4 linked regions of the Homo sapiens genome follow. The protein of the gene in region 2 purifies or fractionates together with the protein of the main gene of each other region. This does not show direct contact. Each region holds a gene or a part of one and is shown on either strand. Other genes may lie near its edges.

Region 1 (3,500 bases), on a different chromosome or scaffold from region 2:
TGTGGTGGCGGGCACCTGTAACCCCAGCTACTCATGAGACTGAGGCAGAATCGCTTGAATCCGGGAGGTGGAGGTTGCAGTGAGCCAAGATGACGCCACTGTGCTCCAGCCTGGGCGAGAGTAAGACTCCGTCTCAAAAAAAAGAAAAAACTTGTGATGATCAAAGGAAACCATCAAGAAAGGCTAACACAATCCATAGAATGAGAGGAAATAAACTTACAACTCAATAATAAACAGATAAATACCTCAACTAAAAATGGACAAGAGGTCTCAACAGACATTTCTCCAAAGGAGGTAAACAACTGGCTAGGAAGCACATCCAACGGTGTTCCACATTATTTGGAAAGCAAATTATAACCACAATGAGATGCCACTTCAGAACCCCTAGAATGACTAGAATCAAAAAGACAGATAGTAACGTTGATGAGGATGTGGAGAAACTGGAGCCCCATCCAGCACACTGCTGCTGGAAATGTAAAATGGTGCAGCACTCTGAAATACAGGGTCGCAGTTCCTCAAAAGCTAAACATAGTTACCATATGACCAAGGAATTCCACTCCTAGGTATATACCCCAATGAAACGAATGTGTATGTCCACACAAAAACTTATACACAAATATTTATAGCTGCATTATTCATAATATTCAAAAAGTAGAAACAACCCAAATGTCCATCAACAAATGAACTGATAAACAACAGGGTATGACCACACAATGGATTATTTTTCAGCACTAAAAACGAAATGAACTATTGATACTATGCTATAACATGGATAAACCTTGAAAACATGCTAAGTGAAAGAAGCCAGGAACAAAAAAACCATATATTGTTAGATTCTATTTATATGAAAATGTCCACTACAGGCAAATCAGACACGTAACAATTGGTGGTTGCCGAGGCTGGAGGACGTTGGGGAAATGGAGAATAAATGCGTATGGGTATAGGGTTTAGGGTGGGGGTGATGAATATGTTTTAATATTGGATGTGGCAATTAATATGGTTTGGATGTGTGTCCTCTCCAAATCTCATTTTGCAATGTGATCCCCAATGTTGGAGGTGGGGCCTGGTGGGAGATGATTGGGTCACGGGGGAGATCCCTTATGAATGGCTTGGTGCCCTCCCCATAATGAGTCCTCACTCTGAGTTCATGTAGAGCTGGTTGTTTAACAGAGCCGGGCAGGCCGGGCGTGGTGGCTCACACCTAATCCCAGCACTTTGGGAGGCCGGGGTGGGTGCATCATTTGAGGTCAGGAGTTCCAAGAGCAGCCTGACCAACATGGTGAAACCCCATCTCTACTAAAAATAGTAAAAATGAGTTGGGCGTGGTGACAAACGCCTGTAATCTCAGCTACTCAGGAGGCTGAGGCAGGAGAATCACTTGAACACAGGAGGCAGAGGTTGCAGTGAGCCAAGGTCATGCCACTGAACTCCAACCTGAGCAACAGAGCGAGACCCTGTCTCAAAATAAAATTAAATTAAATTAAGAATAAAAGTTAAAAAGTAAAAGAGCTGGGCAACTCCTCCTCTCCCTCTCTCTTGCTTCTTCTCTCATGGGATATGCCAGCTCCCCCTCTGCTTTCCACTGTGATTATAAACTTCCTGAGGCCCTCACCAGAAGTTGATGCTGGCACCACACTTCTTGTACTGTCTATAGAATCACGAGCCAAAATAAACCTGTTTTCATAAATTACCCAGCTTCTAGTATTCCTTTATAGCAATGCAGAACAGACTAACACAGTAATGGTTGCACAACTTCTGTGAACCACTGATTTGTACATTTTAAATTGGTGAGTTGTATGGTATGTGGATTAGATCTCAATAAAGCTGTTACGTATATTTAAGAGAAACAGCCAGTATCTTTATGCAAATAACTCAGTTAGTTGTGCAAGTTGATAATTCCTAATATGAAAACCTGAAATCTGAAATGCTCCAAAATCTGAAACTTTTTGAGCGTCAACATGACACTTGGAGGAAATGCTCACTGAAGCATTTCGGATTTCTGAGGGACGCTCAACTGGCATGTTACCTGCAAATATTCCAAAATCTGAAGAAATCTGAAATCCAAGACACTTCTGGGTCCCAAGCATTTCAGATAAGGGATACTCAACCTATACATACTAAGATTTAGATTGTAACTTCCTAAAAAACTTCAGTATGTATTTTGGTATATAAATCTGGCCAAACCAAAATGCTTACACACATACAAAGTCACACAGAAGGTACGCAGTAAAGGTTTATAGTGAGTAAGAAAACACAGGGACACCAGGTTTGGCATAGTCTTTGTCGTTGGTTCGTAATGTGTTAAAAGTTTAATTTCAGGTTTTTACCTTATAAGATTGAAATCAAGTCTGGCCATGTCAGCATTATCTTCTGGAATATTACGAGCTAGGATTCCTAATTTAAAAAAGTTAAACAAAGTCATTAGCTTCAAAAAACAAGTCAGATTAAGGAATGTCTTTCAACATAGTGTCTTCAATCAAATTAAATCCCATTGATTAAAAAAAAAATTTATTTTTTTGAGATGGTCTCACTCTATCGCCCAGGCTGGATTGTAGTGGCGTAATCACAACTCACTATAGCCCTGACCTCCAGGGCTCAAGTGATCCTCCTACCTCAGCCTCCCAAGTAGCTGGGACTACAGGAATGCATCACCACACCCAGCTGGTCTTTTCAATTTTTTAAAGAGAAGGGGGGTGTTGCCATCTTGCCCAGGGTGATCTTAAACTCCTGGGCTCAAGCGGTTCTCCTGTCTCAGCTCTCCAAGTGCTGGGACTACAGGCAAGAGCCACCATGCCCAGCATAATATTCTTAATTAAAGAATATCAAACATGTAGTTGGGGAGTTATCAAACAAAAAAATTAGGATTAACAGATATATCTGGCTGGCCACAGTGGCTCATGTCTGTAATACCAGCACTTTGGGAGGCTAAGGTGGGGGATCGCTTGAGCCCAGGTGTTCGAGACCAGCCTGGGCAACAAGGTGAGACCCCGTCTCTATAAAAAATACAAAAATTAGCTGGGTGTGGTGGCACATGCCTATAGTCCCAGCTACTTGGGAGGCTGAGGTGGGAGAACTGCTTGAGCCTGGGAAGCAGACAGAGGCTGCAGCGAGCCATGATCGCACCACTGCACTCCAGCCTGGGCAAGAGTATAATCCTGTCTCAAAAAAAAAAAAGAGAGATATATTTAAAAATCTTTTTCTTCAGTTCTTGATCCCAGTTTCTTGAGCAATAAAATGTAAAAAAGGTAAAAGGAATTTTACAAAACTGTTGCTAGTTCCAGAACAGTCTATGCGTTTCTGTAAGTCAATGGCTTGTCTGATGATCTGTAGCCATTCAGCTTTATTCACCAAATTGTACCACAACTGACAAACTAGGAGGATACCAGTTTCTTGCCGTTTCGGTTTATATACAATTCATTCTTAGGTGAACGAACAAATGTAAAGCACTTTGAAAAAAAAAATTCCTTTGCAAGTCAGTTACGCTGTGATGCTTTCTTCTA
Region 2 (2,275 bases):
GTTTTTCTACTGCCCTTATGTAACTGGTCTGCCAGCTTTTTAGAACTGTGTGTGCCTGCAACTTAGAAAAAAAATCCCACAGTTAAATTGGTTAAAACAACTGTCAACTTTCCTTGCTTTTTTGCTGCCAGTTTGGTTAGGGTAACCTTGCAGCCTTGCTGATTCTGTCCTTTGATTTTAAATGCACGTGTCTTTTGAACCTCAAGATGAAGGCTGAGAAGTGACTCTACAGGCTTACTTGTGGAAATGTAGAATGAGTGGGCTTTGCTTTTGTGATCTGTTTTCCTATTTATTGACACCTTCCTTGTTTATTCCAGGTTCACAGCTATAGTCTAGATGGTGGAGGTTTATGACTTTCCAATAAGTGAAATGTTAATGAGGGTTATTAACCCTCACTAGTGTCTGTTTGGAAGTAGTGACATTCTTCCAAAAATCTTGGAAAAGTTGTTTTGTAGTGTGAATGAGCATGAGTCACTGATCTAAGCCCTTTCACTGGATGAAGTGAAAAGATTTTTTTTCAACAAAAGAGGGAGAGAGAGAATCAAGACTCTGATAAACATAGTACTATTTTTAAAAGAAATCCAATAACAATAAAGATTGTTCTATTCTCTGCCTTCCCATTTAGATAGGGTTTAAACCAGCAGGAGGCATCCGCAGTGCAAAGGATTCCCTTGCTTGGCTCTCTCTTGTAAAGGAGGAGCTTGGAGATGAGTGGCTGAAGCCAGAACTCTTTCGAATAGGTGCCAGTACTCTGCTCTCGGACATTGAGAGGCAGGTGAGTAATCATCTCTGTCTTTGGAATAAATTAACAAGTGTTTTTTGAGAAAGGAATTGAAAAGTCAAATTGAGAACTGGAGATAAAAACTCATCTGATTGACCTCATCCTACCCAATCCTCTACCTTTTCTTCCAAGCAAACCGCCATCAGAAGTGAGTAGGGTGGAGATTCTGCTGAAGCACATACTAGTGAGGCTTTCTAATGAAATGTTCATTAAAACTATTTATTATTATTTGATAGTATAATTATTAACTGATGTGTATAATTATAGAATGATTGTTAATTAAACTCTGCTTTTCCTCACAGATTTACCATCATGTGACTGGAAGATATGCAGCTTATCATGATCTTCCAATGTCTTAAATCAGTCACCAGTTCCAGAAAAGTTCTTTACGACAATGTTTAAAAATTATTTTTCTACGTAATTGCTAAAATTATTTAATTAAAAAATTGGGCAGTAGGTAACTGGCATTCCTCTCTTTAAAATTTCTACCGAACTTAATGGAATGGAAAAAGCAAACTCATCCACATGTGGTACTCATTTCAGGCACATCTGAAATGATCTTAATTACTAGAAGATCTGCACTATTAACTTTGTGAAGAGTTTCTCCTAAAAACTTTAAGTAAAATGTTAATGGTAGCTTTGATAACATCAAATTCTAAGGGAGAAAAAAACAATATTAAACCGCCCAAGCAGTGTGCCCTAGCAGAGGAAAATGCAACATCTCGCAAGCGCTGCTGTAACGACTTCAGGAGTCACTGATTCAGCACTAATTTCCTGCTGTGAAAACTCATCTTTCATTTTTGCCGTGGATAGGCGCTTTTATTAATTGTTGTCCTAATGAAATTTCTGACATTGTCATATACAACGATGAATATCATTAAAATTTTTAAAATAATAAAGTTCCTATAGTTTATTTTTTTAAAAAACTTAAAAATTGTTACAATACATAATGAAAAAATAATCCATTAAACATAAAAAGAGGTTTGATCAGTGAGTCTCTGAATCTCTCTAGTTGATTCCTTGGGTATATATCTGTAAAACACCCCAGTATGTTATTAATGAATGCAACTTATGTATGTGTTCTGAAACTTCAAATTTTCTGGTATAGTGAATGGAGGAAAACAGTAGATATTAACAGCACTTGCTGTGTAATAAGCTTTACATATATCAATTTATTTAACTCTCATTTAATCCTCATAATAGTAAGGTAAATACAGTTAAGGGTTTTGCTTCTTATAGCAGTAAGTACTCATGTAAACATCCTTTTATACAGACAGGGGAATGAGGAACAAAGAGTTTAAGCAACGTGCCAAAGGTTGCTCAAAATTAGCAGAGTTAAAAATCAAGCCCAAGCAGACAGGCTGGCTCCCAAGTGCGTGCAGTCACCCCCATGTCTCCCTGTCCCTCGGTACACATAGTCAGGTGTACATAAACAGAGCTCCCCATCAGCTGAGAGGACGGTAATCTGCCTCATGGTGGCTGGCTTTTTTGCTC
Region 3 (3,500 bases), on a different chromosome or scaffold from region 2:
TGTAGTGCAGTGGCACGATCTCAGCTCACTGCAACCTCCGTCTCCCGGGTTTAAGCAATTCTCCTGCCTCAGCCTCCTGAGTAGCTGGAATTACAGGCGTATGCCACCACACCTGGCTAATTTTTGTATTTTTAGTAGAGACTGGGTTTCGCCATGTTGGCCAGGCTGGTCTTGAACTCCTGACCTCAGGTGATCTGCCCACCTTGGCCTCCCAAAGTGCTGGGATTATAGGCATGAGCCACCTTGCCTGGCCCAGGACATTGTTAACTAATAAACCTTGTTTTTTGTTTTTTCCTGTTAACTCTGCCTTATGCTTAGCCTTGGAATTAAAAAAAAAAAGACTGGCATGCTAGTTCTTGACTCCTAGCTAGCCCATTCTTTCAGGGAATCATCTTCTTTGAATGTGTTCTTTGTCCCATAGTATAATAAACTATGAAGAAGAATGAGCATGCATCTATTTTCTGTCATCTGATTTAGCTAACAACTTCTTCACACTGTCACTGTGCTCCCAAGTGAAGGGGGCCAGAGTTGCCTCCATTTGGTGTCCGCAGTGAGCAACAGGTTAACGTTTCAAGGGAAGCTTGAAAACATTCTCGTTTTCAGAGAATGTTGATCTCTTTCAAAAGTCATAGCACTCTCCCACTGTCGACACACACATTTCTGGGGCTACTGTGTCAAATGCCATTCTAGGTGCTGGGCACGTAGTGGTAAAACAAGAACAGGCTGATCCTCCCTATCAAAACTTGTAATCTTGAGGGAATATAGACAATGAAGTAATTGCACAAAGAGCTATGCCATTACAAACTGGAAGACGGTGTGAAGGGAAAGTGCAGGAGGCTAGCACAGAACCTGCTCTCAGTCGCTGAAGGCCATCGTGGACACCATTGTATGAATTTCTTCAGGAAACTCTAGAAAAAGGTGACCTTGGACACTTTAGTTATTATTTAAGCCTTTTTTTTAAAAAAAATTTATTCATTTATCTCTTTTTAAAATAATACTGTTCGGCCGGGCATGGTGGCTCACACCTGTAATCCCAGCACTCTGGGAGGCCGAGGTGGGCAGATCACCTGAGGCCAGGAGTTTGAGACCAGCCTGGCTAACATGGTAAAACCCCATCTCTACTAAAAATACAAAAAATTAGCCAGGCGTGGTGGTGGGCGGCTGTAATCCCAGCTACTTGGGAGGCTGAGGCAGGAGAAAAGCTTGAACCCGTGAGGCAGAGGTGCAGTGAGCCAAGATCGCACCACCGCACTCCAGCCTCGGTGACAGAGGAGACTCTATCTCAAAAAAAAAAAAAACAAAACCCTATTGGTTGGAACATGCATTCTCCTTATTTTAAATCACAAATGAGGGCCTGACAAGGTGGCTCATGCTTATAATCTCAGCATTTTGGGAGGCCACGGCAGGAGGATTGCTGGAGGCCAGGAGATGGAAATTAGCCTGGTCAACATAGTGAGACCCCATCTTTATTAAAAAAAAAATCACAAATGAGAGTAGAGTCTGTTTTGGCTAGTGTTTATTGAGTACTTCTATATGCCAGGTATTTGGTACATTATTTACATGCATTATATCAATTCTCACAATAATTCTGTGAGGTAAGTACTAGTATCTCGTTTTTCAGTTGCAGGACTTGAGCCTTAGAGAGCTTAAGTAATTTGTTGATGATCATAAACTGAAGATGCTGAGTTTGAACCCAGGTCGAGCTGGAAGTCCTAAACGTGTAATTTTATGGCTTAAAAAAAAATAGGCCTACATACTGTTTTTCTACAAAATGTAATTGAGTATTAATTCAATTTAAAGCTGAATAAGATAATTGATTACAATGGGTCTTTAGTTAACATGACCTTGTTTAAAAAGTAGCGTCTTTAGATATCACTTTGTTCAGTTTTTTAAATTTTACAAATGAGAGAACCAAATCCCAGAGAGGTGTCACGTCCTAAGGTTATGCAATTAGTGAAAGAAACTGGACAGTTCTGCAGGGCCAAGGAGGAAAAAATAAACTTTTATTTCTTCTCTTGACTCTGGATTATATGGGCAACTTTGAGCCTCTCTTCACACATCCGATGATGTTCTAATATCTGCAAGCTGCAAAAACTTTTATTCTGAATAAACAATGTGAGTGCTGAAATAATTGAAACCAGTTTTTTTAAGTCCATTACATACTGATGAATTAAAAATTTCAGTTTTATCTTGTTAATACAGCATCATGTGAAATAATTTTTGTGCATTGTTAGAGAAAGTATAGATTTGATGGTCATGTAAAGAGTTTTGTAGATATTTAGTAGTTTTTTAGCAATGTCCCCCCATCCCGCTACATAATGGAGTTTTGTTGGCTATTCAGAAGAAGGGTGAATATTTTGTACTTTTTCTTTTTCAGATTTCACTGTGGGGAAATAAGTGTGATCTGTCTCTCTCAGGTGGAGAAAGTAGTTCTCAGAATACCAATGTACTAAATTCATTGGAAGACCTAAAACCTTTCATTTTATTGAATGATATGGAACATCTTTGGTCATTGCTTAGCAATTGCAAGAAAACAAGAGAAAAAGCTTCTGCTACTAGAGTGTATATTGTTCTCGATAATTCTGGATTTGAGCTTGTTACAGATTTAATATTAGCCGACTTCTTGTTGTCCTCTGAACTGGCTACTGAGGTTCATTTTTATGGAAAAACAATTCCATGGTTTGTTTCTGATACTACTATACATGATTTTAATTGGTTAATTGAACAGGTAAAACACAGTAATCATAAGTGGATGTCCAAGTGTGGGGCTGACTGGGAAGAGTATATTAAAATGGGTAAATGGGTTTACCACAATCATATATTTTGGACTCTGCCTCATGAGTACTGTGCAATGCCTCAGGTTGCACCTGACTTATATGCTGAACTACAGAAGGCACATTTAATTTTATTCAAGGGTGATTTGAATTACAGGAAGTTGACAGGTGACAGAAAATGGGAGTTTTCTGTTCCATTTCATCAGGCTCTGAATGGCTTCCATCCTGCACCACTCTGTACCATAAGAACATTAAAAGCTGAAATTCAGGTTGGTCTGCAGCCTGGGCAAGGGGAACAGCTCCTGGCCTCTGAGCCCAGCTGGTGGACCACTGGAAAATATGGAATATTTCAGTACGATGGTCCCCTTTGACTTGATTTAGGAGCTCTCAGTTGCATAGAAAGATCTGGTGAGCACCTTTTCATCCCCAGAAAAGGAGCACGTGAATTGAGTCGCCTGGCGGCTCTGTACGCGCTCAGGGAAGCTTAGCTTCTTGGTGCCCATCTACGTGCACTGGATGATTTTTCTTTTGAACATTTTGCCCCACTACACTGTTTTGGGGATAGCTGGGTTAAGCAAGTTAAAGATATTTACATTTATATTGGAATTTTAGCAACTTTTTTTCAGGTTAAATATATAATTTCAAGTGCTTTTAATGAACTTATTTTTAATTGGCTAGGGAGCAAAAAATAAGTGAGTTCTGCTTTTAGTTAGTTAACCTTGTTCT
Region 4 (3,500 bases), on a different chromosome or scaffold from region 2:
TGCAGGCGTGAGCCTCTGCGCCCCGCCCACGTCATTCTTCATGTGGAAGTTTTTCTTTCTTTCTGGGGTCAGTTGTGCCTTCCCTGGCTCAGGGTGTCAGCAGCATTCACCCACCAGCCTGACCACCTGCTCATAGAATTGCCCAGAATGTTAGAGCCGAAAGCGCTGCATGGATGCCGCAAGGGCAGCCTGTAATCCCAGCACTTTAGGAGGCCGAGGCGGGCAGATCACCTGAGGTCAGGAGTTTGGGACCAGCCGGCCAACATAATGAAACCCCGTCTCTACTAAAAATACAAAAATTAGCCGTGGGTGGTGGCGGATGCCTGTAGTCCCAGCTACTCAGCAGGCTGAGGCAGGAGAATGGCGTGAACCCGGGAGGCGGAGCTTGCAGTGAGCCGAGATTGTGCTGCCACTGCACTCCAGCCTGGGCGACAGAGTGAGACTTTGTCTCAAAAAAAAAAAAAAGAGCAGCAAACATTTACCATCTCATGTGGCTTCTGAGGGTCAGGAATCTGGGAGCAGCTTAGCTCAGTGTCTGTCCTGAGGCTGCAGTCAGGTTCGGTGGAGCTGCAATCTTTTGAAGCCCCCACTGGGACACGAGGACTGTCTCCAACACAGTTCACTCCTGTGGCGCCTGCATGTACCCACACACACCCACACACACCCCCACACACCCACATACCCGCACACCCGTACACACCCCCACACACCCCTGCACACACCCCACACACACCTGCACACCCCCGCACACACACCCCCCACACACACCCACACACACCCCTACAGCAACGTGCACACACCCCCACACCCGCACACACCCGCACACACCCCACACACCTGCACACACCCACACACCTGCGTGCACACCCCCCCACACACCTGCACACACCGCCCACACCAACATGCACACACCTCCCCCCCACACACACCCACGCACACACCTGTACACACACACCTACACATCTGCGCACATACCCGCACACACCTGCATGTAAACATGCACACACACGCACATCTGCACGCACATGCGCACACCTGCACACACCCACACACCAACATGCACACATCCACACACATACCTGCACACAACTGCACACCCCCGCACACACCCACACACACATATGCACACACGCACGCACACCTGCACATACCTGCACACTCACATGCACACACGCATGCTGGTGCAGCCCTGCCGGGGAGCCTCCAAGGCCCTCACTCCAGAGTGAATAGGAGGGTAGCCTTCTCCGTGGGGGTCAGCCTCTCCCTGGAGGCCAGGGCGGGGCAGTCACCCTCTCTGTGTCTGGAGAATCAGTCTGGGATTTAGAAGGAATAGTTGCTTTTCTTCCTAAGGAAGTTTCTCATGTCTTATACCCTCCAGGTTCGCATCGCTTTGCAGCTGGACGATGGCTCGAGGTTGCAGGACTCTTTCTGTTCAGGCCAGACCCTCTGGGAGCTTCTCAGCCATTTTCCACAGATCAGGTGAGCATCAGTGGGCTGGGGGCTCTTCCCTACCCTGTTTGCTGGGGAAGCTGCTGTGGTTACTGGGTCTGGTTCAGAGCTGGACACCCAAGCTCTGTGCTGGCCTGTGGTGCCTCTTGGCACTTTGCAGTCCTTTGTAGAGGAGGGGTGTGTGGGCTGCCGGTTCATGAGCAGCAGCCTCGGGGATGGCTGGTCACAGCTCATCGTTCTGAGTTTCCTGGGCCCAGCGGCCCAGCCTTGCCCACCTAGAAGAGCAGGAATGTGCTTCTGTCCTTGTGGGGGCCTGGTGAGCACTAAGGGGAGACGTTCGGTGCTGGGGGCAGGGCTCCCCATGCTTGATTCCCCTGGATGGGATCATAAGGTCTCTTTTTTTTAAGAGGCAGGGTCTCACTATGTTGGTCACCTAGGCTGCTCTTGAACCCATGGGCTCAAGAAATTCTCCCATCTCAGCCTCCCAAAGCGTTGAGATTACAGGTGTGAGCTCCTGTGCCCCACCAGAAAATCTTCCTAATAGTAATTGGATGGCTGGGCACAGTGGCTGGGCACAGTGGCTGGGCAAAGTGGCTTGCACTTTGGAAGGCCGAGGCTGGCGAATCGCTTGAGCTCATGAGTTCAAGACTAGCCTCGGCAACATAGTGAAACCCCTTCTCTACAAAAAATAGAAATGTTAGGCCAGGCATAGTGCATGGTGGTGCGTGCCTGTGGTCCCAGCTATGCCAGAGGCTGAGGTGGGAGGATCACTTGAGCCGTGGAGGCAGTTGCAGTGAGCCGAGATCGCACTGCTGCACTCCAGCCTGGGCAACAGAACGAGACTCTGTCTCAAAAAAATAAATAAATAAAAATAAGTAATTGATGTGTATCAGTTTCTGTCGGTTAATGGTTTAAACGTTGTTCCTGAATGTGTAAAAATTGGTGCTTTGTCAATTTGGGTCTTTTCATCGTTGGCTGGAAGTCTCTGTCCACAGTAAAAGGCTCAGCAGAATGGAAGGGACTTGGGGCTGGGGTTTGCTGTGAGCCAGGGGGTTCTCGCCCTCCCCGGGCCTCAGTTTCCTCACCTGTGCCCCGGCTGGTGTGTGGATGGGGTGAGTTCATGTCTTGAGGACCGAGCATAGGGCCTGTGGGAAGGTGACCGCGCGTCGGGCGCTGGGAAGGTGACTGTGCGTTGGGCGCGCTTGGTGGCCCCAGGGCTGGGCCTGCTCCCGTCTGACAGTAGTGCCGCGCTGCATGGCACGGGTGTTGCGTTCGTGGGTGAGAGCGCTGAGGTCTGCACGTCGGGTCTCAGTGGTCATGGGGATGGAAGCCACCCCAGTGGCTGTCGGGGTGAATGGAGGCCCCTGGAGATGGCAGCGGGTTAAGCACGAGCACGGAATTCTCCCTCCCAAAACGGAACTCAGACAACAGTGACGGAGCCTAAGAGCAAAGCCAAAGCCACGGGCAGGGGTGAGCGGGACCCGAGGCAGGAGATGACGGAGCCTAAGAGCAAAGCGAAGCCACGGGCAGGGGTGAGCGGGACCCGAGGCAGGAGGTGACAGAGCCTAAGAGCAAAGCGAAGCCACGGGCAGGGGTGAGCGGGACCCGAGGCAGGAGATGACGGAGCCTGAGAGCAAAGCGAAGCCACGGGCAGGGGTGAGCGGGACCCGAGCCAGGAGTGGCGCCGGGCAGGGAGGCAGGCAGCCCCAGGCGCTGTGTGGGCACTGGGTGAGAAGCAGGGATCCCGGCGCCCTGGCTCTGTGCTGCTTCCTGAGACGAGAGTGGCAGAGGGCAAGAAGAAAACCAAACAGCGCGGGGAACAGAAGTCAGGAAAGATGAACGTCTGGAAGGAAATGCCCCTGGGCCGGGCGGTGCCCCCGGGCGTGAACAGAATCCAGTGCTCCCACAGGCACAGGTGCTTGGTGAGGGCCGTCCTCCCTGGCTGTGCTGTCAGTCCTCAGATGGGGATGGAGGTAAGGAAATGGCCCAGAGTGGCCTGGGGCTGCCACTGGGGAGGGGCCGAGGGTGTCTGGAGAGGTGGGGCCGGCATT

Evidence for each region. The genes of interacting proteins can lie anywhere in the genome.
Region 1: the proteins of DERA (region 2) and ATIC fractionate together in Homo sapiens (co-fractionation; one large-scale study listed by BioGRID). This does not show direct contact.
Region 3: the proteins of DERA (region 2) and DCPH1 fractionate together in Homo sapiens (co-fractionation; one large-scale study listed by BioGRID). This does not show direct contact.
Region 4: the proteins of DERA (region 2) and ASPSCR1 fractionate together in Homo sapiens (co-fractionation; one large-scale study listed by BioGRID). This does not show direct contact.

The regions. Positions count from the first base shown.
Region 1 is NC_000002.12:215,318,559-215,322,058, reverse strand, and holds part of ATIC (bifunctional purine biosynthesis protein ATIC), read right to left. Parts: intron 2,395-3,500; coding exon 2,328-2,394; intron 1-2,327. UniProt on the Homo sapiens protein: Bifunctional enzyme that catalyzes the last two steps of purine biosynthesis.
Region 2 is NC_000012.12:16,035,607-16,037,881, forward strand, and holds the end of DERA (deoxyribose-phosphate aldolase), read left to right. Parts: intron 1-625; coding exon 626-775; intron 776-1,083; coding exon 1,084-1,140; 3' UTR 1,141-1,775; downstream 1,776-2,275. UniProt on the Homo sapiens protein: Catalyzes a reversible aldol reaction between acetaldehyde and D-glyceraldehyde 3-phosphate to generate 2-deoxy-D-ribose 5-phosphate. Participates in stress granule (SG) assembly.
Region 3 is NC_000006.12:151,465,966-151,469,465, forward strand, and holds part of DCPH1 (damage-control phosphatase ARMT1), read left to right. Parts: intron 1-2,377; coding exon 2,378-3,145; 3' UTR 3,146-3,500. UniProt on the Homo sapiens protein: Metal-dependent phosphatase that shows phosphatase activity against several substrates, including fructose-1-phosphate and fructose-6-phosphate.
Region 4 is NC_000017.11:81,984,129-81,987,628, forward strand, and holds part of ASPSCR1 (tether containing UBX domain for GLUT4), read left to right. Parts: intron 1-1,378; coding exon 1,379-1,479; intron 1,480-3,500. UniProt on the Homo sapiens protein: Tethering protein that sequesters GLUT4-containing vesicles in the cytoplasm in the absence of insulin. Modulates the amount of GLUT4 that is available at the cell surface. Enhances VCP methylation catalyzed by VCPKMT.